2 separate regions of the Homo sapiens genome follow, and region 2 is linked to region 1. Evidence: fine-mapped expression QTL. A gene starts in region 1. The other region holds a variant in brackets. All regions are shown on one strand. Distances are between the middles of the regions.

Evidence for each region.
Region 2: its variant is fine-mapped to the expression of FRMD4A in whole blood (TOPMed, PIP above 0.99).

What each region holds. Positions count from the first base shown.
Region 1 is chr10:14,329,492-14,332,299 of GRCh38, forward strand. FRMD4A (FERM domain containing 4A) reads right to left here and starts at 1,433. Exons shown (of 25, transcript NM_018027.5): 1 at 1,106-1,433; 2 at 567-692. The coding sequence starts at 611.
Region 2 is chr10:13,704,282-13,707,089 of GRCh38, forward strand. It overlaps FRMD4A (FERM domain containing 4A), which reads right to left. Exons shown (of 25, transcript NM_018027.5): 13 at 2,756-2,808. Among named protein-coding and RNA genes, the nearest start is that of PRPF18, 120 kb to the left of the region's middle. The variant G/A (reference allele first, on the strand shown) is at 1,619.

The sequences.
Region 1 (2,808 bases):
GACAAGTCCTGCCAAGGTTGGCCATCAATGGTAGATAGGAAACAAGCTGCTCCCAACTCAGTAGCCCAAGCATCACTGAAGCCACAGTGAACCTCCTCCACCACCTCTACAGGAAAGTATGAGCAGATATATGGGCGCCTAGAAAGAAGACCCCATTCTGTCACCCCATGGGCAACAGATTCCACAGTTGCCCTGAGAAGATATCCAAAAACAAACACAATCAGCTCAATTTAGATGCAAAAGACAAGGGGGAAAGGATGCTGGGAGCTGGAGGAGGCATCCTAGCAATCTATTTCGAGGGGCTCTTAGCACCTGTTTGCAAGCACAGCTCTCAAAATAGCATTCAGCAACAAGTTTCTGAAATGGCAAATCTACAGCTTCTTTTCCCTGCAAGTGCTTTGTCATGCTGATACTCTGACCCAAGAAAGCATTTCCAAAGAGCCTGCGGGATAAAGCGGAGCAATGTTGAACATGTCTGCAGCCACTGCAGCGGCAGCAGCAGCCCACGGTGCAGGGGAGGCTGGAGTGGACGCTGCCCGGGCCCCACCTCCTGTCTGAACACTCACCATCAGCAGGCCGAGAGCTGAGTCGGGCACCAGCTGCACTGCCATGGTCTCCGATTCCCATGCACGAATCCTGCTGCCGAGTCAGTCCTCCTGGGCCCCGGGTGGCTACAGAGCATCCAAAAGCACCTGCAGAAAAAGCAGCCAAAATCCAGACTTAGGGAGCAAAAGGCTCAAGGGGAAGATAGGCCACCTTTCACACAGGGTGGGGAGGAGGTCAGGGAAGACAGGGTGGGAACTGTGCTTAGGGAGGAAAAAAAAAAAAAGAAGAAGGAAAATAGGAAGCTGCAGGTTATTTAAAAGTGAGCCCTCCCTAGCTTCGCAAAGCGGCACAGACAGGGAGACCGCATCAAACACAAACGTGAAAGCTTAGAACACGGAATGTTTAACTGCTACCTTCGCCCTGGCAGCAATTCTTCCTTTAACTGACAATTAAAATAAAACATTCCCTATTGCAGATAAATCAAGCAGCCCGAGCCACCCCCTCTCTCTGCATCTCTCAGCAATTCTGCTGCATAAACATGCTGAATGTCACAACATACCGCTCGCAATCTGGTCAGTGTCTTCTTTGCTGCAGATAGGTGTGTCCCTTTTTGCAAAATCAGATATCTGGGAGTGAGACAGCCGAGTCTGACCATGAGGCACCAGGCAGTCACTGGAGATCAGCAAATGCCCTTACCATCCCCGAGGAGGAAGTCACTTAGGAACTGACCCTTCCACCTTCCCCAGATCTACTTTTCCTCTCCAAGTAGACTGGCCAGCTCAGCTCCCGGTAGGGCTAACATACTTAAGAGGAACATGGAATTGCACTGCCTGTTCTGTGAGCGTTCTGATCTCCCTGGCTGTACCACATGTACGCCGCATACAGACACACTCTACCTCTCTCTCCCTCCCTTCCTCCCGCCCTTCCTCCCTCCCATCCCTTCCCTCCCATCTCTCCACAGGGCTGCCTGTTAGGAATTTTGAAGGAGCCTCCCTAGTTCAGGGAGGCATAGGAGGTGAATTTGTCACAAGGGACACTGCTTAACAGGAAAAGGCAAGTTAGCCTTGAAAATCATATCATGCAGCATTTTCCCCGGAAGATGTCAATGAAGGGAGAAAGAAAAAACCTGCCGAATCTTGTTATATAATGGGTAGCTCAAAGGGCTTTCCAGAGTCAAAGACTTAAGAAAATTAGATATCTTTTCATGAGCACTGTCAAGCTTGTATCTTCTTCTGGAGTCCATGTATTCAACTAAAAATGGTTATTCCTGATACTTCTAGTATGTCCTTTTCTGATTTCTTCCTTTACTCACCTCCTGTAATGGCTCCAAAAAATCCTGAAAATTAACTAGACAGTGTGAAATGTAGAAACATAGAGAACAGTTTTCGAAATAAGAAACTAGGGGGAAGAAATTAATGACCTTTCATGTTCCTGTGCACGAGCATAGCTACTGTTCCTTTATTACTTATACTTTTAAAACTATTGATTTGGGCCAGGTATGGGAGCTCACACCTGCATTCCCAGCACTTCTGGGGGTTGAGGCAGGAAGATAGCTTGAGACCCAAAATTCAGGGTGAGCCTAGGCAACATAGCAAGACTTCATCTCTACAAAAAAAAAAAAAAAAAAGAAAAATAGAAATAAAAGAATTAGCCAAGCATGGTAGTGTGTGCCTAGAGTCTCAGCTACTTGGGAGGCTGAGGTGGGAGGATCAGTTCAGTCCAGGAGTTTAAGGCTGAAGGGAGCTATGACTGCACTCCTGCAATCCAGCCTGGGGGACAGAGCAAGACTCTGTCTCTAAAAAAATTTAAAAATAAAAAGTATTTGCTCATCACAGTGCTTAGCACAGAGTAAGTACTAAAATATATTCAATAAATGAGTGAAGGCTGGGTGCAATGGCTCACGCCTGTAGCCCCAGTACTTTGGGAGGCTGACGTGGGCAGATCACCTATGGTCAAGAGTTCAAGACCAGCCTGGTCAAGAGTTCAAGACCAGCCTGGTCAACATGGCAAAACCCTGTTCTATGAAAAACACAAAAATTAGCCGGGTGCGGTGGGCACCCGTGTTCCTAGATACTTGGGATACTGAGACAGGAGAATCGTTTGAACCTGGGAGGTAGAGGTTGCACTGTGGTGAGATCGCACCACTGCACTCCAGCCTGGGCAACAGAGCAAGGCTCTGTCTCAAAATAAAAAAAAAAAGAAAAGAAAAGAATAAAACAAAATAAAATAAGTGAGTGAAAAATTTTCTCCCATTTTGTTTTT
Region 2 (2,808 bases), 630 kb before region 1:
AGTCATCCCGGGTCTCCACCTCTGGCCTCCCTGGGCCTCTCCCCCATTCCTGCCTGTCTGCAGGCTAACTCAGTGTACTCAGAGCGAGTTTGCCTGGGACGAGACAGCTCTGCTTCTTCCTCTGGGCTCCTCCAACTCCCACTTCCCTCCAGCCAGACCCTCCCTCATTTGTTTATCCTAATTGAGAAGCCCCCACCTGACATCTATATCCCCCTGAGGCCCTACCACGTGGCTTTAATCCTAGTTACCCCTCCAGGTCCAACTCAGACCTCTCCTTCCTGGTAAGCCTCTCCCTTCCTGACCAGCCAGGCCTCTGGTGACCCTGTCCTTCACCCTTCATGGCCCACGACGTCTGGCCCTTCTGTACAGTATAGAGATAAAGGGCATGAGCTCTGGAGCCAGACCTCCTAGGTTCAAATCCTGCCTCTCCTGTATACTAGCTACTTGTCGTCTAGAGCAGGTTTCTTTGTTTCTTGTGACACTCCATGAGTTCCTTCTTCTCAGCCAGGTTCCAGGCAGTGGCTCACGCCTGTAATCCCAGCACTTTGAGAGGCCAAGATGGGAGGATTGCTTGAGCTTGGGAATTTGAGACCAGCCTGGGCAACACTGTGAGACCCAGTCTCTCCAAAAAAAAAAAAAAGCTGGGTACGGTGGTGTGTACCTATAGTCCCAGCTACTCGGGAGGCTGAGGCTGAGGTGGGAGAATTGCTTGAGCCTGGAAGGTGGAGGCTGCAGTGAGCTATGATTGCACCACTGCATTCCAGCATGGGCGACAGAATGAGACCGTGTCTCAAAATAAAAGTTCCTTCTTCTGCCTGTCTTCTCAGTTACACTAGAAGATCTTTAAGGAAGAAGACCCTGCCTCCGACTTCCTTCCTTCCCCGCCACAGCACCCGACAAGGACACAGAAGCTTCGCAAGAAACATGACATTGATCACTGCTGTCTAATAGGCGACAGGCCCACTGAATAGTCACGTGTGAGATCTAGATTCTTTCCTATATCCCTGGGCTTTGGTAAAGAGAGTTTAGCAGTACTCACCAATAGGGCGACAGACGCACAGAGAACACGAACACACATGTGCAGATATATGCGTGCGTGGTTAAAGGATTTGTCCAAGGTGCCTGGGTGTTCACTGAATTCCCAGCAGAGCACAGGCATGGCGGAGGGTCTATTCCCTGCGCTCAGCCCCTTAGATTACCCAGCCCCTCATTTTTATCCTATGGAGCATCCCCTTTCTGCATCTGACCCATTGTGGCAAAGTTCATTTCACTCTTTCTGTACTTAAATTTCCCCTCTCTTACATGCCTAAGAACCTGGTCCAATTCAGTTCACCTGGAAAATGAACAGTGAGTTTCTTCTTGGCTGGAATCTTATTTTTGAAATCTCCCCGCCCACCCCACTTGGCCTGCACAGATGGATCTGTGCTCCATGGAGTGGGGCTTCTGGCCGCGAAACCCCTTGCAGGGCCCTGAGAAACACCGGATAAAATATTTTTCTGTTAAAGGCTACCATTTTCACCTGACTGTGGAGATGCAGAAACTCTCAGCTGCTCTCCACTAACTATTCCTGTAGTAACCGTGGTGCTGAGATAAGCTCTTGCCCTACACAGGAGTGGCT[G/A]TTTCAGGCAGATTACCCTGGAGGGCAAGCACGGCTTCATTCCTACCGGGTTATCATGGGCTGCAGGAACAGGGGCTACTGCACAGGTCCAAGCCCTCTCACTGGGCGGGGTAACTCCAAATCTCCCTCCTGTCCAGAGCTCATGGGGAGGGACTGCAGCTTGTTTTGAGCATCAGAAGCCATGTGTGAGCTGGAATTGGTGCCAAGTCCTCCTTCTAAGCCCAGGGCTGGAGCGTCAACAGCGCCTAAAACCCACTTTTGCTCCTCTGTAGAGTCTGATCTTTTTTCTGTCTCCCTGGGGCTACCTTCTTATTGTAAATGTCTCTGACCTTATGGAAAGTGATTTCTTAGTTGTCAGGCCTGGTTTTAGGGAATTACGCTGCTGTTTTTGGGGATGCATATAACTTTAGGTCCAGCGGCAGACAAAGAGAGGAAAACAGTGGGTATGAGCTGCCCAGACCCCAGCCACCTGGGGCTCCCTGCATTCCAACCTGGGGCCCCACTGTCTTGCATCTGACTTAAGAGTACAGGGACTTTTTACAACCCTGGTGCTCTCTGGGGTACGATTTTGGGTGGAGGGAAAAATAATTTCATTTCTTTCACATCCACCCACAATACTAACATCCTAAAATTACAGCTCCTGGAATAAAACAACGTAGCACAACTGCTTTGGTGACAAATTCATTTTCGCATTGACCGTCCTGCCTGAAATACTTTTAGAAGCTCTAATGAGGGATTCTTCAGACTCTTCTATAGCAAAAGTTTCCTATGGGGACTTACTGGTGTGTGTTACAAAGTGCTATAAAGCTTCCTTCCAGTGCCCCGGCAGGTAAGACAAACACATACACTGACACACACACACACACACACACACACACACGAGCCAGGGACACATGTGGCCAGATGAGACAGTCAGGGGATTGCTACTTACACACACGTGCGAACCCACTGCATTTATCAACACATGTAATTGAAAAGAAAGTTTCACTGTCTGATTTGAGCTCCATTCCCCAGGAGCCCCCACCCTCGCTCCCTGCTCCAAACTGACCATGAACAACGACAGCCCCAAAATAATATCCATAACACGCCCGGCCGAGAGCCACGCCATCCCGCAAGAAAAGGACTTTTCAAGCTTACCTGCGTGGGTCATGAACTTCCACGGAAAACTTCTTTTCTCTGAAGTACAGGTT